2 linked regions of the Homo sapiens genome follow. The protein of the gene in region 1 purifies or fractionates together with the protein of each later gene. This does not show direct contact. Each region holds a gene or a part of one and is shown on either strand. Other genes may lie near its edges.

Region 1 (10,894 bases):
GTGTGGCATCATTTTTCCACTGTGCTGTAGGATTTTTGCATCACTGTTCATGAATGAGACTGTGCTCTGTGTGTGTGTGTGTGTGTGTGTGTGTGTGTGTGTGTGTGTGTGTGTTTTAATGCTACCTCTGTCAGGTTTGGGTTTTCATGACCTAACAGTTTCAAAAAAAAAAAAAAAAAGGTTGAAAGTTCTACTTTATTCTTTATATGTGGAAATTGAAATAAATTATTTTTGATTTATTGAAACTTAACTTGAAGGTCTGATATAATTTCACAATAAAACCAAACCTTTCTTTCTTTATTTGTTGGGGAAGGGCGGGAGGAGTGGGGTGGAAGGATACTAACTCATTGATATTTTATAATGGTGCTTTTTTTCCCTTAGAATTTCTCTATCTTCTGGGGACAATCTGACAACCATGGATTTAATTCAGATTCTTAGATTTTAAAAACAATTCTTTTGATATTCTTGGTATCTTTCATTCTCTGCCTGTTCTCTTTTTTTTTTTAATTTTTTCAGACAGTCTCTAGCTCTGTTGCCCAGGCTAGAGTGCTGTGGTGCAATCATAGCTCACTGCAGCCTTGAACTCCTGGACTCAAGAGATCCTCCCCCATCAGCCTCTCGAGTAGCAAAGACTATAGGCACACACTACCATTCCCAGCTAACTTTTTTAATCTTTAGTGGAGACGGGCTTTTGCCCTGTTGCCCAGGTTGGTCTCGAATTCCTGGGCTCCAAACAATCCTCCCTCCTCAGCCTCCCAAAGTGCAGGTGTGAGCCACTGTGCCTGGCCCTATTCTCATTTTTATTGTGATAAAAATTTTAAGGTAAATAAATGATAGAGCCAAATTATTAGAGCCAGACTACATCTACAAAAATTTAATGAAATTTCACTTGTCTGAAATCATGACACAAAGAAACAATTTTTACCAACTTTGAAAGATATGTTTGTGATGGTATAAATTAAAATTCTGGCTATTTGGCACTCACAAAAATCTGTGGAGCACCTTAAAGACATAGGTGGTATCCGCTGGGCGCAGTGGCTCACGCCTGTAATCCCAGCACTTTGGGAGGCCAAGGTGGGTGGATCACCTGAGGTCAGGAGCTTCAGACCAGCCTGGCCAACATGGTGAAACCCCGTCTCTACTAAAAATACAAAAAAATTAGTTGGGCGTGGTGGCGGGCATCTGTAATCCCAACTACTCAGGAGGCTGAGGCAGGAAAATTGATTGAACCTGGGAGGTGGAGGTTGCAGTGAGCTAAGATCACGCCACTGCACTCCAGCCTGGGTGACAAGAGTGAAACTCTGTCTCAAAAAAAAAAAAAAAAAGAAAAAGAAAAAGAAAAGACATATGTGGTATCCTCCAAAACAGTGGAAACAGTTAAGATGCTCACAGGACAGCTTTATCAGGAGAGACATGCTATACATATAAAGATATTAGGGACAGAGAAAAAAACAATTATCTTTAAAAATTTTTTTATTTTTGAGACAGAGTCACACTCTGTCGCCCAGGCTGGAGTCCAGTGACACCATCTCGGCTCACTGCAACCTCCGCCTCCTGGGTTCAAGGGATTCTCCTGCCTCAGCCTCCCGATTAGCTGGGATTACAGGTGCCCGCCACCACACCTGGCTACTTTTTTTTTTTTTTAGTAGAGATGGGGTTTTACCATGTTAGCCAGGCTGGTCTCGAACTCCTGACCTGAAGTGATCCACCTGCCTCAGCCCCGAAAAGTGCTGGGATTACAGGCATGAGCCACCACGCCCAGCAGAAGCAACTATTTTACTCACAGGCCCCAAACTGAAATGCAGGCACTGATTTTGCAAATCAGATGCTTTCCATATGGCAAGATTTTTGGTTTTTTGTTTTAAGACAAGGTCTTGCTTGCCGCCCAGGCTAGAGAGCAGTGATGCAATCTTAGCTCACCGCAGCATCAACCTCCTAGGCTCAAGTGATCCTCCCACCTCAGACACCAGAGTAGCTGGACTACAGGCACACATCACCATGCCCAGCTAATTTTTGTATTTTTGGTAGAGACAAGGTCTCACTATGTTGCCTAGGCTGGTTCTGAACTCCTGAGCTCAAGCGATCCTCTTGCTTTGGACTACCAAAGTGTTAGGATTACAGGCGTGAGCCACTGCACCTGGCCAAGATATTTGTTTTCAAAGGATGGTTAATAGTTTTCAAAGGATGGTTAATATCAAGTATATTAAAAATTCCTTAAATTACTAATTACCTTTTCCTGTCTTTTTTCAAAGGAGGATTTAACTTCATCAGAATTTTTCTTTACATTTAAAACACCTGTATCTTCAGTTTCCGCATCATCTGGTAAAGCAAAGGTCACTCTTTTCAAGCTTTCTTTATGTTGTTTATTGTCTTCATTTTCTTGAAGGTCATCATCTTCATCCCTACAATACCAAAACTCTTATAAAAAGAAATATACTACTTTCCATTAGAAAAACAAAAGGAAACAAATTTTCCCTTAATAAAGTTCTTATTTTATATACCTAATGCAACCAAATACTCAGAACTTCCAAAATCATTCAGTTATTAAGGAACAAAAGGTATTATTTAGGTAAAACGCTATGTAAGAAACAGAAAAAAAAGTGTCCAACATATAGAAAATAAATTATTCATCAATCTATAATACAAATCTCTTATCTCACAAAAATAACAGGATTTTATTGACACAAAACCAAATCAAAGTTCCTGGTAAGGAAGGTTTGATTGCTACTACCAGAGATATTTTTCTTCATTAAGTGATCTCTAATGTCCCTTTACAGTCAGAGACTTTCCTCTGGCTATCTTGAGAATATCTGATATTAGAGAATAGAACTTGCTAAGACAAACACATTTGATAACTACGAGTACACACACATGATTGGGCAATTCCAGCTTACAATGTAAAGGATGGTTCAAAATACTCACGTTTCCGAAATACTTAGTTCTTCTGCTTCTTCTTCAGCAATTTCATCATCTTCTTTGTTTGAATCCAGCTCATCATCATGAACATTTGTTATGTCTTCATCACTTTCAACTGGATCAAAAAAATCTTTGTATTTCAGATTTCTGGAACTTTTACCTGACTAAAATAAAAAGATATTAAAAACTATTAATTAGGGATAGAAAAATATATTAACACATGCATATAGATTTGCATGTATATTGTATGTATATATTACTTTCTGACTTAATAACACTACAAGCTAATAACTAATAACCAAACTAATAACTAAATAATTATTAGGTGAAAATGGCAACTAATAACACTACCACAAAATTATAAGACCAACTGGAACATAAATTGAATGGAAGTACAGATTCATTTATAACTGATAAGATAGAGCACAATATTTCTTATCACTAAATCTTCTAACTACAATTAAATCTCTCCTAGAAAAACAGAAGAAAAGCTAATTTGAGGAGGAAAGTGCTCTCTCTTCTCTCAAAACTTTACCTTAAGTTTTTTACTTCCAAACAGTCCCCCTTCATCTTCATCAGAATCAATATCTTCAAAAAAATCAATATCTTCCTCCTCCTCATCATTATCATCTTTTCGTTCCTCTTCTTTTTCTATGTTTTCTAAATAGGCCTCCATTTCAGAGAGTTTGAAGAATTTATCATCTACTATGGACTTTTCTCTTGGTTTTCCCTGTCCTTTGTTTTGCACCTTGCTCTGCTGTTCCAATTTGCTGATATCAAAGTCAAGGTCAGAATCCTCATCACTGAAAACGGGGCTTTTCCTCAGATCAGATTTGCTTGAGTTTTCAGCTCTCTCACCCATTTCAGGATCATCATTACCCATGTCGGACACTTCCTCCTCCTCTAAATCTTCTAGGTCCTCCTTGTCATCAGCCTCTATCTCTGAACCATCCTCTTCACGTTCCTGTTCTTCACTCTCTGGGAGAAGACTGATATCTTCATCATTAATTGTTTCACTAACTGCATTCTGAAAGTATTGTAAAATTGGTTCATTTTGCAATTCCAGTTGTTGCCAAATCTGCTCATCATCAAAATTTTCTATCACAAGTTTTTGCAAGGGGCTTCCATGGATCCTACCATTCTCTAATATTTTATTAAAGTCATAAAGCACTTTTGTTAAAGAAGTGAACTTTGATGCCAATCCCTCTTGAATCCTATTGGGAGGAATTAAGTGAGATTTAGAATTACAGGTAATAATTTCACAGCACTCTTAATAAAAATAAAAAAAACCCAACTCTTTTGTAAAATAAAATTTGAATGAAGTATAAGTATAGATTCTGGCCCCCAACAACATATAAGCTGATGAGCTACACTGATATATAAAACCTGTCAACCAAGTATCTGTGAATCGGCTGTATAGATTTTAGGCAGGAAAACCATTATAAATCTATTTGCTTGGAGATATATAGTGAATTAACCTTAAATTATCAATTCTGCTACATTATATACCACTCCATTCATTTGTTCACTTATTCATTCAATGATCAACATTTGCTTTGGCTACAGTGGTCAAGGAAAACCTCTCTTAGATGTCACATCTGAGAGGAAACCTACAGATAAGGAGATAGTCTTATAAAGGTTGGGAAACATGTATTCCAGGCAGAAGAAATCCTCTAAGATGCAAATCCTCTAGAGGTGAGCTTGAGGAAACAAACAGGTGACCATGGCTAGAGTGTGAAGGAGGCAGAGGGTGAAGCTGGAGAGACTGATGGGAGCCAAATTATGCATGGTTCAGGAGTAAGAATTTGTCATTTAAAGTGTAAAGAGAAAACATTTTAAGCAGAGGGATGAAATGATGATTTACACGAAGGAAGGAGAAAGGGACGAGGGAGGAGGAGGAAAGTACAGTGATTAGAAGGTTGATGCAGCATTCCAGCGAAAGGATAATGGTGATTTAGACTGGAGTTAGAGCAGTGAATATGCTGAGTATAGTTTGGAGGTAGAACTGACAGGATTGCTAAAGAATTAGATATAGAATAGAGAAAAATGAAGACATTAAAGTAGCAGCCTAGTTTTATGTTTGAGTACCTGAAAAGACAGAAGTGCCATTTACTGAGATAGGGAAGGCTTGGGTGGTGGTGTCAGGCCTCTGAGCTGAAGCTCAGCCATTGTAACCCCTGTGACCTGCACATATATGTCCAGATGGCCTGCAGGAGCCAAGAAGTCTGGGGCAGCCGAAAAACCACAAAAGAAATAAAACAGCCAGTTCCTGCCTTAATTGATTAATCAACATTACAACATTCCTCCATTGTGACTTGTCCCTGCCCTACCTTAACTGATCAATCGACCTTGTGACATTCTTCTTCTGGACAATAAGTCTTATGATCTCCCCACCATGTACCTTGTGACCCCGTCCTCCTCTGCTAATAGATAACCACCTTTTACTGTAATTTTCCATTACCTACCCAACTCCTATAAAGCAACCCCTTCCCCATCACCATTAGTTGACTCTCTTTTCGGACTCAGCCCACTTGCACCCAAGTGAATAAACAGCCTTGTGGCTCACACAAAGCCTGTTTTAGTGGTCTCTTCACACAGACGCGCTTGACAGGTGTAGCATGGGAAAAGGACTTCAGGGGATGGCAGAGTATAGGTGGGTAGAAACAACAATTCTATTAAACAGACACAACAGCTCTATTTTGGACGCAGTGAATTTGAGATGCTTGACAGTACCAAAATTTTAAAAATCGTTAAAAGTTGTACAGTGTGGATATCCCAGTTGTGTGCTACGGAATTCAAACTAAGCTCAGTCTGTAGTTGCTGTGAGCTGGGAACTCAGGGAAAGGTTGGGGTTTGAAACATAAATGAGTAATAATTTCATAGATCACATTTTAAATTCTTCAACAAAATACATATAAAACGCTTGTGTTGGGAAGAGACATGGAAGTTCTATTTCTGAAGAAGCTTAGTCATGGGGGGTGGACAGACAAGTGACAAGTTCGTACTTTCAATAAAGTATGCTAAGCGCTAAGTGCTTTGAGAGCACATAGGAGGAAGGAGAAACCAACAGTCTGTGTGTAGAGGGATGGGGGCGTAAGAAGCCCAAGGGAAGCTTCTAGGTGTTAACAATTGAGGTTAGAGTGATTTCAGTAACACTCAACTGAGAGATCCATCTATACAAATTTTAACAGTTTTTAAAATTTTGATAGCCTAGGAAAGCATAAACTCTGAAATTTGGGGAAAAGCGATTTTACGTTTCCCCTTACCTTCCCCCAGCTCCACAATTTGCCGGAGGCCTGCAACCCGCGTCCACGTGAGACCCCGGTCGCACCCCGAGCCCGGGATCTGCGCACTTACGTGAGGAAGCACTCGGGCCGACCCGTGGCTTTGCCGACTTCCGTCAGACACCGCTCCAGGGTCCGTCGACGCCAGACCTGCGGCGCCATGGCTGTCAGCAACTCCCGACACAATGCAGCATGCAAGGGAAGGGAGCCGCCCGGAAACCGCGCGGCAAAGATGCGCCCAGCGCAACTTGGATTTCAGAGCCGAAAGTTCCGCGGCGCACAGGTTCCGGACTCGCCCTCAGCCAGAGCCAATGGCAGCGCGAGCGCTTTCGCAGGAGGGTGGGAAACAAAAATCTCCATGGTCAGCCCAAACGCCTTTCAACTCTCTCCAAACTTCGTTTTGTATTTTTCAGGGGCCCACAAAGGGTGACCCGTCCTGGCCTTACGTTTCTGTTTTAGCTAAAGTAGGCCCGTTGTAGCAGGAAAGCAGCGACCTTCGCCACGCCCCTGACCTTTCTGTCCCCGCCCCCTCTGCCTCCCGCCCCGCCCTCTGCCGCGCGTCTCTCAACCTCCGTGGCTAGTCTTGACGTGGCGGGTTGCTTTCCAAAATGGCGCGGGTGCTGAAGGCTGCAGCCGCGAATGCCGTAGGTGAATACCGGGCACCGGCGACCTTCGCCATGGGACAGGGAGCGTGGGAACGGCGGTCGGGGGCGGAGGAGGCCTCGGCGTGGCCAAAGCACCTTGATCTAATGTCCTCCCCCGGGGGCGCGTTCCACAGCAGCTGCTGTCACTTAGGCAGAGGGTGCCTTCCAGAAGCGCCACCGCTTAGTAGCGGGGATTGCCTTGTGCATGAGTCCCATTTCCATCCGAGAGCTGTGCGCCTTGGGCTCTGCACCTTCCAGTATGTGGGCGGGAGAGTCGAGGGAACTTGCCCGGCAGGTCAGGCAGGGCAGGGACAGAAGTAAATAGAAGCGGATCGGTAAGTTATTTTACCGCGCACCAATAAAGAGACTGGGGAGAAACCAGAAAGGAGAGCACGTTCCGTAAAAACAACAACTACTAGTCGGCCGAACTCCAAGCGTGACCAGCTTTCTGTTGGGAACACTCAAAGGTCAGTGGTGTAAAGAATACAAAAGGAGTGGTTTTTCCACGTGCACTAATATATTTATCGCGTACACAGATAAAAGCATGTGGATTTGGAAACTTTCTTGAGTTCTCTCCCCCTTCATTTTTTTTAAAATATGTACATAGAATCAGTTATGACAGAAATAACTGTAATAATTGTCACGTTTTCTGACTCACTTTCTCCTCTTTTTATCCTTTTTTTTTTTCTCTTCCTCCTTTTATGAGAGGGCAAGTATTTCCCTTAATCTGAGATTCCCTATTAGGAAGAAGGTGCCAAGTGGTAATGCCCCAGAGTTACTCCGGGACATTCGTGATAAATCCTTCTAGCACCAGAGCCCACATTCTTAACCGTAAGGCATACCTTCCTCTTAGGTGATACACAAGATAGGAACGTAAAACTATAAATAAATGAATATTTGGGAAAAGGCATTTTTATGTCTATTTTTAGAACTGCACACTTTAATGATTGACAGTTTGGGAAAAAGTATGACTTCCAACAGGTCATATACATACTGCAAGAACTCAATACAGATAAAGGTGCATGTTTGTTTTGTACTTACATACACATCTTGGCATAAAGGAAAAATGAAGACAGTGTATTCCAAAGATTGCCTTTGATTTGTCCTATTAAGATACTTGAAGCTTAATGTCTCCACTTGTGTGTGTGTGTGTGTGGTTGAATATACATAAAGTAAAATTTACCTTTTTTTTTTTTTTTGAGACAGAGTCTCACTCTGTCGCCCAGGCTGGAGTGCAGTGGCGTTAGCTCACTGCAACCTCTGCCTCCCAGGTTCAAGCCATTCTTCCGCCTCAGCCTCCCGAGTAGCTGGGATTACAGGCACCCGGCACCACGCCCGGCTAATTTTTTGCATTTTTAGTGGAGACGAGATTTCACCATGTTGGCCAGGCTGGTTTGGAACTCCTGGCCTCAGGTGATCTGCCCACCTCGTCTTCCCAAAGTGCTGGGATTACAGGCGTGAGCCCGTCTCTACTAAAAATACAAAAATTAGCCGGGCGTGGTAGCACACGCCTGTTATCCCGGGTACTCGGGAGGCTGAGGCAGGATAATCGCTTGAACCCGGGAGGCGGAGGTTGGCGTGAGCCAAGATCGCGCCACTGCACTCCAGCCTGGGCAACCAAAGCGAAACTCCGTCTCAGAAAAAAAAAAAAAATTGCTTTTTAAGACTGAATAATATTCCATTGTGTGTGTATACCACATTTTGTTTATCCATTCGTCTCTTGATAGACATTTGGGTTATCCCCACCTTTTGGCTATTGTAATACAGCTATGAACGTGGGTGTACAAATACTTCTGAATTCCCGCTTCTTTGGGGGTGTGTATACTCATAAGTGGAATTGCTGGATTACATGGTAATTCTATGTTATGGCCCCTCTTTTAAGGAACATAAAACTTCGCCGAAAAACAAAAGCACAGAAAAATCAGAGTGAACACGTAGAAAAGTTCTGAAAATGGAAATTGAACCTGTTAGGTGGGAGACAAGAATGACCAACTTACATGACTGCATAGGTTTACTTTCATTAATCGTCTGTAAATGGGCTAACAGAAATGTAATCTGTTTACTTACTGTAATGAATAAAAAAAATTGATCATAGTTTGAAACAAGTTGAAGATATATATATGGTGCTGTGAAATTAACTGGTCAAATGTTTAAGAGAAAACTTACCAGACTAACTTGAAAGCACTTCTAATGAATGACTTTCTAAATACGTATGTTTCCTCAAACCAGATATTCAGTGAAAATTCAGACTTATGTTCGGCCAGGCGCGGTGACTCACGCCTGTAATCCCAGCACTTTGGGAGGCTGAGGAAGGTGGATCACCTGAGGTCAGGAGTTCAAGACCAGCCTGGCCAACATGGCAAAACCCATCTCTACTAAAAATACAAAAATTAACCGGGCGTGGTGGCGCGCTCCTGTAATCCCGGCTACTCCGGAGGCTGAGGCAGGAGAATTGCTTGAACCTGGGAAGCAGAGGTTGCACTGAGCCAAGATTGCGCCATTGCACTCCAGCCTGGGCTACAGAGCCAGACTCGTTTCAAAAAAACAAACAAACTTATTACGTGTTCTAAAATTAGATTATGTGAAGGTCGCACAACTTTGCAAAGATGCAAAGAAATGAATTGTACACTTCAAATGGGTGAACTTTATGGTATATAAATTTTAAGTCTGTTTAAAAACTATTAAGAGATAAAGCTGTTAAAAAACCTATTACAAGTGATTATTCACTTTTATAGTACTTTTTATACAAATTTAACATCTAATGTCTTTAAATAGTAAGTACTCTTAATGCATTTGAGTATAGATCCTTGCAGCTAAACCTTTATGTATTCAGGGACAGTGTCTAAAAAGTGTGATCTGAAATAAATGCAAAATCTGAACTGAAAGAAATGCAATGTTGTTTTTAAGTCAGGACACTAAAAGTGATTAACGAGAATTGATATTGAAAGGAAGATTGGAATGAGAGTTAACATACACATCCGATTTTGATCTTTTACTTGTATACCAGCTTCCTGACATGTGAAAATAGTTTCTTTAATCTGTATTCATCTTTACATGCGTTTTTTATTAACACTTCTGTTTTTAAATATCTTATGCATTTATTTGCACATGGTTTTACACTGTAGTATATTCATGCAAAGCAACCTTTATTGGAATAATCACAAATTAAACATTGCAGAATTCAAAATAATGCAATTCTGCTGCACTATTCTGAAATGGGAGGCAGAGAAATCTAAAACTAAAGAGCTGTGAATTCCTGCTAGTTGGAGGGCAACCTGAAATAAAAATAGCTTTAAAAAGGTAGCTTCAGTGTTGGTAATCATTTTCATAATTTATGCATTTATTAAAACATCACATTGTATACCTTAAAGATACACCGTTTCTATTAGTCATCATACCTCAAGCTGGAAAAAAGTTTCTACAAGTCAAAGGAGAAATATAATAATTAAGAGTTCAATTCACAACAAACTTTTCAGGAACACATTTTTATTAAATATAAAGCTCTGTCTCTTTTTAACTCCTTTATTCAGTGTTCTCTACCCAGTTTGCTTGGTCTACACAATTTCACCTTTGGATTTTTATTGTTGGATCTTTTTTTTTTTTTTTTTTTTTTTTGGTAAAATGTACATAACAAAACCCTTTAAAAATGTACAGTTTAGGCTGGGCACAGTAGCTCATGCCTGTGATCCCGGCACTTTGGGAGGCCGAGGTGGGCGGATCACGAGGTCAGGAGTTCGAGACCAGCCTGGCCAACATGGTGAAACCCTGTCTCTACTAAAAATACAAAAATTAGCCGGGTGCGGTGGCATGCGCCTGTAATACCAATTATTCAGGAGACTGAGGCAGGAGAATCGCTTGAACCCGGAAGGTGGAGGTTGCAGTGAGCCGAGATCACACTATTGCACTCCAGCCTGGGTGAAAGAGCAAGAGTTCGTCTCAAAATAAATAAATAATAAAGTACAGTTTAACAGTAATTATTACATTCACTGGGTTAGTGCAACTATCACATTTGTCTATTTCAAAACATTTTCACTGGCCTAGTGCTGTGAC
Region 2 (10,048 bases), on another chromosome or scaffold:
ATCCCAACACTTTGGGAGGCCAAGGCGTGTGGATCACCTGAGGTCAGGAGTTGGAGACTTGCCTGGCCAACATGGTGAAACCCCATCTCTACTAAAAATACAAAAAGTTAGCTGCGCGTGGTGGCAGGTGCCTGTAATCCCAGCTACTCGGGAGGCTGAGGCAGGAGAATCACTTGAACCTGGGAGGCAGAGGTTGCAGTGTGCCCGGATCGTGCCACTGCACTCCAGCATGGGCAACAAGAACGAAACTCCGTCTCAAAAAAAAAAACAAAACAAAAGAACAGAGCCGTGATTCTAAAAAAAAAAAATCAGGCAGTACCATCCCAGGGCGTGAAGTCAGCGCAGTTCAGTTCTGTAGAGATCCATGAGAAGTCCCAAACGTTTCCTAGCCCTAGAGTGGGGAGGTCGGGCACGGGGAGGTGCCATCCGGTTGGTCTGTGGCCTCGAGTTTTCTGGGTAGAAGCTGCTTGGGTTCCACCCCAGGGCCTGTCCGCCTGTTGAGAGCAGTGACGGAAAAGGTCTGTAGCTCAACAGCGCCCACAGTTGATCACGGAACCTCTCCCCTCCACCAAAAGAACTGCCATTAAAATCCCATGAAACCACATAGGGGCAGTGTTGACATTGGGGGCCTTGGAAAGTCCTCAGGCCACCCCTACATGAGGCTGCCTCGGGAGAGCAGGGCAAGGCTGTGGTGTGGAAGTCCCACAGCTCCAAAAGCCCTGCCCAGCCGACACACTGGCGCACAAAAGCAGGCAGCCTTGTGGACGCCTGAGGCCTGTGTGTGCTTCAGAGGCATTTGGCAGAAAGTTCTTTATAAACAAAGATCCCTGCTCACCAGTAGGCAGAGTGTGTGTGTGTGTGTGTTTGTGGTGTCAAAACCAGAACTCCAGCTTATGTGTTCACAGTGGAATTTGAAAACGGAAACCTAAAGTTGAAAATTAAAACCACTGTGTTAGCACCTCCAAAACCTGTTTTGTGCTGGGCAGGTTGTTCAGGGTGCAGGGCCCTGGTAACGCCATACCCTCCCTGCCTTCCTGACAGAGCCGTACACGGTGCGTGAGGCCCGCATCCACGTGCGCCATGTCCGAGACCTGCTCAAGAGCCTGGACCCATCCGATGCCTTCAACGGGGTTGACTGCAACTCCTTGTCCTTCCTGAGTGTCTTCACCGACGGCGACCTGGGAGGTGCGGGAGGCACTGGGGCCGGGGATTGGGCCAAAGGGCGGGGAGCACGGAGGTGGGGGGCTGGAGAAGGGGCCGAGGGGCCTGGGCCTGAGGCACCCGGACCACGGCCATCAGGAGGTAGGGAGACAGCTGGCCCTGGGTGGCCCTGTGCTGACCACCAGCCTCGGGTCCCTCAGACAGCGGGAAGCGGAAGAAGGGCTTGGAGATGGACCCCATCGACTGCACACCACCCGAGTACATCCTGCCAGGGAGCCGGGAGCGGCCACTGTGTCCCCTGCAGCCCCAAAACCGTGACTGGAAGGTAGGATCCTGGGGGAGGGAGGAAGAGGGTCCCTGGCGGGGTGGAGGCCCCACACCAGAGGCCTGGCCCCTCAGACTCGGCCGCTCCCGAAGCCCTTGCAGTGCCTGAAAGTACTCACCATGAGCGGATGGAACCCGCCCCCGGGGAACCGGAAGATGCACGGGGACCTCATGTACCTGTTTGTGATCACAGCCGAGGACCGGCAAGTCAGCATCACCGCGTCCACACGGGGCTTTTACCTGAATCAGTGAGTCCCTGCCAGCCCACCACACCCCCCTGCCGTGCCAGCCGTCCTGGGTCTGGGCAGACACCTGGGCCCCCGCTCAGTGCCCGCCCTCTCCCTGCAGGTCCACAGCTTATCACTTCAACCCCAAGCCCGCCAGCCCCCGCTTCCTAAGCCATTCCCTAGTGGAGCTGCTCAACCAGATCAGCCCGACCTTCAAGAAGAACTTCGCTGTGCTGCAGAAGAAAAGGTAGTGCCTTTGTCCCCTCCCGCCTTGTCTCATGGCACACGGGGGCATGGGGTGAGCCGGCCCACCTGCACTCCAGTGCTTCTGTCTGAAGAAACCGCCCTGGGCCCCCAGTGTTGGAGTCCCCGCTCTAGGGAGCTGTCGGCCAGTGCCGAGACAGCAGCCGCAGGAGAGGCGCCCGTGCACTTCCATCTGGCTCCAGGGCAGTGTCTCAGGGTGGGAGATGCCGGAGCAGGCGGGGGCCTCAGAAAAGGGGCCCGTGGAAGGGCTCTGAGCTTGGTGGGCTGCCCCATCTCCCCCTCCCCTGCCTGCCACAGGGTCCAGCGCCACCCGTTCGAGAGGATCGCCACCCCATTCCAGGTGTACAGCTGGACAGCCCCCCAGGCGGAGCATGCCATGGATTGCGTGCGTGCAGAGGACGCCTACACCTCGAGGCTGGGCTATGAGGAGCACATTCCTGGACAGGTGCCTGCAACCTGGCCCTGCCCTCGCTGGGCACCCCTGCCCTCCTGGGTGCTGGGCTGGTTCCGTGCACTTCCCTGGAGGCCCCATGCTTGACTTCATTTGGGAGTCTGGGGCTCTTCTCAGGAAGGTAGAAGGAGCGACTTCCGGGAGCAGGTCACAGGGCACAGGCTGAGCTCGTTTTTCCCTCCCTGATCTCTCTGCAGACCCGAGACTGGAATGAGGAGCTGCAGACGACGAGGGAGCTGCCTCGCAAGAACCTGCCTGAGCGGCTGCTCCGAGAAAGGGCCATATTCAAGGTGCCTGCAGCCTCTGCTGACCGGCAGTCTGAGGCCCGCTGTCCACCTGCTGACGGGTTTTCTCATGGAGAGGAGGAAAGCAAGGGAGGCAGGGGCAGCCCTAACCCTGTCAGGTTCCCCGAAGGCCAGTCAGCGTCTCCCGCAGGGTCTGCTAGCCTTCCGCCTCCCAGCAGACCATCCCAGTACCTTTCTCTGGCCTCTCTGAGGCTTTGAGTCCCTGGAAGGAGCGGGCCCTACTTCCCATAGGGACTGAGTGTCCAGGGCCGTGCAGCTTCCCGCCCTCTGTGACTGCTGCGGGGCTTTTGCCTGGGCGAGCACTGGCCGGCCATGGCCCTTCTAGGGCGGGTGCTCATTTGCATAACACTTTTAGTTTGCTGGGGTTTAAAAGTTATTAGTGCTGGGTTACTAAGAGAAATGAGGAAAAGCAGTTGCTTAAGAAAAAAAAAATCTCAGGCCGGCTTCAGTAGCTCATGCCTGTAATCCCAGCACTTTGGGAGGCCGAGGCGGGCGGATCACAAGGTCAGGAGTTCAAGACCAGCCTGGCCAATATGGGGAAACCCCATCTCCACTAAAAATACAAAAATTAGCTGGGTGTGGTGGCGCATGCCTGTAGTCCCAGCTACTCGGGAGTCTGAGACAGGAGAATTGCTTGAACCCAATAGGCGGAGGTTGCAGTGAGCCGAAATTGCATCACTGCACTCCAGCCTGGGCGACAGAACAAGACTACGTCTCAAAAAAAAAAAAAAGAAATCTCAGCCAGGCACAGTGGCTCACGCCTGTAATCCTAGCACTTTGGGAGGCTGAGACAGGCAGATCACTTGAGCCCAGGAGTTGGAAACCAGCCTACGAAACATGGTGAAACCTCGTCTCTGCAAAAAATACAAAAGATTAGCCAGGCATGGTGGCATGTGCCTGTAGTCCCAGCTACTCGGGAGGCTGGAGTGGGAGGATGGCCTGAGCCAGGGGAAGTCGAGGCTTCAGTGAGCTCGGATCTCGTGCCGCTGCATTCCAGCCTTGGCAACAGCGTGATACCCTGTCTGAAAACAACCAACCTCCCATAGTTATACTGCCTAGAGATGATAATTGTAGAAACAAAAACTCATTTCTCGGGTACCGACTTCACCAGAGATGGTGCCAAGTGCGTTATAGAGACTATTTCCTATAATATATTGGACAACTTGTAAAGGTCAATACCTTTATCTGTTCAAGTTCACCTGGCACATAACTGGTGGATCCCAAACCTGCGCACGCTTGTTAATCACTAAGCCCTGCTGTCTCCCTCAGCACAAGTGTATTCTCAAAACATGGGGGTTTTGGTTTGTTTGCGCTTTTTTAGAAATGGAGTCTCACTCTGTCCCCCAGGCTGGAGTGCAGTGGTGTGATTTCGGCTCACTGTAACCTCCACCTCCCGGGTTCAAGCAATTCTCCTGCCTCAGCCTGTCGGGTGGCTGGGACTACAGGCGCGCGCCACCTCGCCTGGCTGATTTTTTTTGTATTTTTATTAGAGATGGGGTTTCACCATATTGGTCAGGCTGGTCTCGAACTCGTGACCTCAAGTGGTCTGACCGCCTCGGCCCCTCAAAGTGCTGGGATTACAGGTGTGAGCCACCGCGCCCGGCCAAAACATGGTTTTCTTGCCCTTTTCTACATATGAGGAAACTGAGGCTCCGGGTCCTTGGGTTTCCAAGGCAGGCCCGGTTGCCTCCGCGGTCTAGGTGCGTGCGCTTGGCCAGGTGGATGCAGGCTCTTGTGGGCGCGGCCTCTAACCCTGCCCTCCTCGACCCCCGCCAGGTGCACAGCGACTTCACCGCGGCAGCCACCAGGGGCGCCATGGCCGTCATTGACGGCAACGTGATGGCCATCAACCCCAGCGAGGAGACCAAGATGCAGATGTTCATCTGGAACAACATCTTCTTCAGCCTGGGCTTCGACGTCCGAGACCACTACAAGGACTTCGGGGGGGACGTGGCGGCCTACGTGGCGCCCACCAACGACCTGAATGGCGTCCGCACGTACAACGCGGTGGACGTGGAGGGGCTGTACACGCTGGGCACGGTGGTGGTGGATTACCGCGGCTACCGGGTCACGGCCCAGTCCATCATCCCCGGCATCCTGGAGCGGGACCAGGAGCAGAGCGTCATCTACGGCTCCATCGACTTCGGCAAGACCGTGGTGTCACACCCGCGGTACCTGGAGCTGCTGGAGCGCACGAGTCGGCCCCTCAAGATCCTGCGGCACCAGGTGCTCAACGACCGTGACGAGGAGGTGGAGCTCTGCTCCTCGGTCGAGTGCAAGGGCATCATTGGCAACGACGGGCGCCACTACATCCTCGACCTGCTGCGCACCTTCCCCCCGGACCTCAACTTCCTGCCCGTGCCTGGCGAGGAGCTGCCTGAGGAATGCGCCCGCGCCGGCTTCCCCCGCGCCCACCGGCACAAGCTCTGCTGCCTGCGCCAGGAGCTGGTGGACGCCTTCGTGGAGCACAGGTGAGGGGCGGCCCTGCCGGACCAGGGCCGGGGCCAGCTGCAGGGAGTGCGGGCGCCCTGGGTGGATCCGGGGTTGGGTCCTTGAAGGGAGAAGCGCTGGAGAGTGAAGAAGGGCTCCGTCTAGCCACAGTCATTGGAGACCCGTCCCCACCTGCCCTGCTGTCAGGCTCCCGAGCGCAGAAACCCGGGCTGCAGACTCGCGAGCAGCCAGGCGGGTAATGTGGCTGTGGCGGACACTGTTCTCTTAAGGAGCACTTGGAAGTCTGGGTGGCTGTGACTGTCCCCGTGCTGGGGCGGGCAGGTGGGGCACCGGGGGTCCCCGCCGCTGGTGTTTAGTGCTTAGGAAATGGGGAAATGGCCATGTCAGAGGTCCCACAGCATGAGTAACTCTCAAATGCCAGTGGCTTCCTGTCACTGTTGAGAGCCCTGACCTGGATGGGGAGCTCCTCTTTTCCCATACCCTCCAGAACGCAGCTGCCTTTTTTTTTTTTTTTCTGAGACGGAGTTTCACTCTTGTCGCCTAGGCTGGAGTGCAATGGCACGATCCCGGCTCACCGCAACCTCTGCCTCCCGGGTTCAAGTGATTCTCCTGTCTGAGCCTCCCGAATAGCTGGTATTACAGGCGTGCACCACCACGCCCAGCTAATTTTTTGTATTTTTAGTAGAGACGGGGTTTCTCCATGGTGGTCAGGCTGGTCTCGAACTCCCAACCTCAAGTGATCTGCCTGCCTCGTCCTCAAAGTGCTGGGATTACAGGCGTGAGCCACCACGCCCGGCCGCCTTTTTCTTCCTGTCTTGGGAGATCTTGGTTTTTCTGCGTTGACTCATGCACACCGGCCAGGAGGTGCCCTATGCCTGCGGGGTGTGGAGCCCCAGCTGCCGGGAGCCGTGGGCCAGCAGAGCTCCTCTCCCCGATGTCCAGCTCCTGCTCTGCCCTGTTTCCTCTGCTCCAGGTACCTCCTCTTTATGAAGCTGGCCGCCTTGCAGCTGATGCAGCAGAACGCCAGCCAGCTGGAGACCCCCTCCTCCCTGGAAAATGGTGGTCCTTCCTCCTTGGAGTCCAAGTCTGAGGATCCTCCAGGACAGGAGGCGGGAAGTGAGGAGGAGGGTAGCAGCGCCAGCGGCCTGGCCAAGGTGAAGGAGCTGGCAGAGACCATCGCCGCAGACGACGGCACAGGTGGGGCTGCTGCAGATGGCCGGGAGAGAGCCCGGGCTGGCCCTGCCAGGGTGGCTTATGACCCCCACCTGGGAGAGGCTGGCAGACATCTCTGCAAGGAGCTAGGGGGCGAGGCTTGGCGCAGCCCAGCTCCACCGGTGGCAGAGGGGACCCGTGTCTCATGGAGCCATGTCTCCACAGCAGACCCTCGGAGCCGGGAGGTGATCCGCAACGCGTGCAAGGCGGTCGGCTCCATCAGCAGCACCGCCTTCGACATTCGCTTCAATCCTGACATCTTCTCACCAGGCAGGTGGTGGGGGCCGGCCAGCGCAGGAGCCCTCCAGGGCCAGAGCTTCGCTGGGGGGCCTGGGCCCTTGGGGCTGGTGGGTTTGTCCCCCATCTGAGCGCTTCCCCCGCCAGCGCCAGGCGGCATTTGTCTTGCCACTGCCTGGCTCAGCCTCTCTGCTCTCCCTCCTCCAGGGGTTCGTTTCCCTGAGTCCTGCCAGGATGAAGTTCGGGACCAGAAGCAGCTGCTGAAGGACGCGGCTGCCTTCCTGCTCTCCTGCCAGATCCCTGGCTTGGTGAGGGAGGGGCTGCGGGGCTGGGTGGGGCTTGTGTGGAGGGTGCTGGTCCCTCATCTGTCTCCGACTTGGAGGCCCATGAACACAGGCTCGCAGGAGTGACTTTTTCAGCTTTCCCTGAGTGGGCATCCCCGTTTGACAGATGGGGAGCCTGACCCCCAGAGGTCAAGGGCACAGGCCCTGCTGAGCCCACCGTGTGGGCTGGCAGCTGGTAATCCAGTCTTCTGAGCCCTGGATGGTGGCATGGCTGGGGGACGGGGCCAGAGCTCAGTGGGGGCTGCCCATCCTCCTCCTCCTCCCGCAGGCTCTGTGTCTGGTTCCAGGATGCTGGGTGCTCCCCCAACACCGTGGCCTCCAAGCCTCAGGACACGGGGCTGGGGGTCAAGTAGTGCCCCCAAGCGGGCACCTCTGCTTCTCCCACATGGTTAGAGGGGGCCTGTACCACCACCGGGCTCTTGGTTCTTGGCCTGCGCTCCTGCCAGAGGCTGGGCACATTCTGACATCCTGACTGGGAGCTGGAGCCTTCGGGGTCCTTCTCCAGGGCCTCCCAGGATAGCTGTGCTCCCCCAGAAGGACTCAGTTGGGTGGAGGCAGAGGAGCTGGGTGGGGGCCTGAGCTGCTGCAGCCCGCAGGTGAAGGACTGCATGGAGCACGCGGTCCTGCCCGTGGACGGGGCAACGCTGGCAGAGGTGATGCGCCAGCGGGGCATCAACATGCGCTACCTGGGCAAGGTGCTGGAGCTGGTGCTGCGGAGCCCGGCCCGCCACCAGCTGGACCACGTCTTTGTGAGTGCTGCCCGGGGTGGGGCGGAACGGGAGCTGTGGGACTGGGATGGAGGCCGGGGGCCTGACCAAGACCTCCCTTCTGAATCCTTCCAGAAAATCGGCATTGGAGAACTCATCACCCGCTCGGCCAAGCACATCTTCAAGACGTACTTACAGGTGCCACCCGTCCGCTCTGCGGCTGGCCATGGCCTCCCAGGGTGGTGTGGGGCGTCGGGAAAGAGCCTGAGGTGGGGCTGAGGGCCCTCATGACTCGGATCCAACCTGCCTCGCAGGGAGTCGAGCTCTCCGGCCTCTCAGCCGCCATCAGCCACTTCCTGAACTGCTTCCTGAGCTCCTACCCAAACCCCGTGGCCCACCTGCCCGCCGACGAGCTGGTCTCCAAGAAGCGGAATAAGAGGAGGAAAAACCGGCCCCCGGGGGCTGCAGATAACACAGCCTGGGCTGTCATGACCCCCCAGGAGCTCTGGAAGAACATCTGCCAGGAGGCCAAGAACTACTTTGACTTCGACCTCGAGTGGTGCGTGCGGGGCAGGGGCGGTGGGGTGGGTGGGATTGGGCAGATGAGGCGGCCACCACCTGCTCCCAGATGGCGTCTAAGGCCTGTGGTCATAGGCCAGGGAGTCAGAGAGAAGAGGGAGCAGCTGTGGAGATCACTGGGTGCTGGAGGGTGAGGGCAGCCGGGAGGCTCCCGGGGGCCGGGTGGGGCAGTGTTGGGGGCCCGGGCTGGACAGCGTTGGGGAGCTGGGTGGGGCGGTGTTGGGGGGGCCCGGCGGTGCTTGGGCTGCTCAGGCCCCCTGCTCCCTCCTCAGTGAGACCGTGGACCAGGCTGTGGAGACCTACGGCCTGCAGAAGATAACGCTCCTGCGGGAGATCTCGCTGAAAACAGGGATCCAGGTGGGCATGGCTCACAGCATCCCCGCTGTGTCCCCGCTGTGTCCCCGCTGCGTCCCTGCTGCAGGCTCCCACTCCTGGCCAGGGCCACAGGGGAAGTGGCTTTTTCACGGTAGCCGTCTGTGCGCAAGCGTTGGTGGGTTGGGAGGTGCCAACCCGCTGAACCTGGGCCTGAGGCTTCCTGTGGTGGGGGGGCTGCCCCCCAGGTCCTGCTGAAGGAGTACAGCTTCGACAGTCGCCACAAGCCCGCGTTCACCGAGGAGGACGTGCTCAACATCTTCCCCGTGGTCAAGCACGTCAACCCCAAGGCCTCGGATGCCTTCCATTTCTTCCAGAGCGGGCAGGCCAAAGTGCAGCAGGGTGTGTGGCCAGGTGGGGCTGGGTGGAGGTGGGGGTTCCCCATGGCCCGTCCTGACCTTGCCACCCCTGGGGGTGCCCTGCAGGCTTCCTGAAGGAGGGCTGTGAGCTCATCAATGAGGCCCTGAACCTGTTTAACAACGTCTACGGAGCCATGCACGTGGAGACCTGCGCCTGCCTGCGCCTCCTCGCCCGCCTCCACTACATCATGGGCGACTACGCAGAGGTACCCTCTGGGCTGTGGCAGCAAAGGCCTGGCCTCGTGTTGGGGGATGGGGAGTGAGGGGGCCCCTGACGGAGGAGTGGGTGGAGTCCAGGGAGACCCCAGGAAGTCGCTGGTTCTGCCCAGGCCACCCCTGGCTCCACCCCTCTGTAACTGTGTCCCGAGCGGGAGAGCTCAGGAGCACCCTGTGCTGCGGTGAGGTCAGTTCTGGGAGGCGATGGCAGGGGACCCCCCCACAGGGCGTCAGCAAGGACGCCTCCTGAGACTCCGTGAGTGGGCAGGAAGCATGCCACCGAGCTCCCACGTCCTCTGTGCCCAGTGCAGGCTGTGGGGTTCTGGGTGCCCTGCCTGGCCGGGGCTGGTGGAGGCTGTGGTGGGGTTCTGGGTGCCCTGCCTGGCCAGGGCTGTTTCAGGGTTAGCATGTCTTAGGATCCCTACTCCCTGCAAAGGGACTGTTTTTTCTTCTGTTTATAAATGGGTGGGTTGTTTGTTTGTTTGTTTGTTTCTGAGACAGGGTCTTGCTTTGTCACCCAGGCTGGAGTGTAGTGGCGTGATATCGACTCCCTGCAGCCTCAACCTCCTGGGCTCAAGCGATTCTCCCACCTCAGCCTCCCGAGTAGCTGGGATTACAGGCGTGAGCCAGCACACCCAGCTAATTTTTGTATTTTTAGTAGAGATGGGGTTTCATCATGTTGGCCAGGATGGTCTCAAACTCCTGACCTCAAGGGACCCACCCCTGCTCAGGCTTTTTTTTTTTTTTTGTAACATTTTTAGTAGTTTTAGGTTTGTATTTGGGTGTTTGTGGAGATTTTGTTGGGTGTAAGACATGGGTGTGTGGAGCTCTCTGTGGAG

Evidence for each region.
Region 2: the proteins of MCEE (region 1) and CLUH purify together in Homo sapiens (co-immunoprecipitation; 2 studies listed by BioGRID and IntAct, with this or other methods). This does not show direct contact.

What each region holds. Positions count from the first base shown.
Region 1 is NC_000002.12:71,126,134-71,137,027, reverse strand, and holds the start of MCEE (methylmalonyl-CoA epimerase, mitochondrial precursor), read left to right. Parts: upstream 1-6,798; 5' UTR 6,799-6,808; coding exon 6,809-6,848; intron 6,849-10,894. Other genes in the region: MPHOSPH10 (U3 small nucleolar ribonucleoprotein protein MPP10), read right to left, coding at 2,231-2,402, 2,923-3,080, 3,452-4,130, 6,274-6,362. UniProt on the Homo sapiens protein: Methylmalonyl-CoA epimerase involved in propionyl-CoA metabolism.
Region 2 is NC_000017.11:2,693,051-2,703,098, reverse strand, and holds part of CLUH (clustered mitochondria protein homolog), read left to right. Parts: intron 1-1,041; coding exon 1,042-1,185; intron 1,186-1,361; coding exon 1,362-1,486; intron 1,487-1,578; coding exon 1,579-1,733; intron 1,734-1,833; coding exon 1,834-1,959; intron 1,960-2,273; coding exon 2,274-2,421; intron 2,422-2,624; coding exon 2,625-2,717; intron 2,718-4,508; coding exon 4,509-5,203; intron 5,204-6,156; coding exon 6,157-6,380; intron 6,381-6,560; coding exon 6,561-6,665; intron 6,666-6,839; coding exon 6,840-6,940; intron 6,941-7,572; coding exon 7,573-7,725; intron 7,726-7,818; coding exon 7,819-7,881; intron 7,882-7,997; coding exon 7,998-8,242; intron 8,243-8,534; coding exon 8,535-8,619; intron 8,620-8,822; coding exon 8,823-8,976; intron 8,977-9,059; coding exon 9,060-9,199; intron 9,200-10,048. UniProt on the Homo sapiens protein: mRNA-binding protein involved in proper cytoplasmic distribution of mitochondria.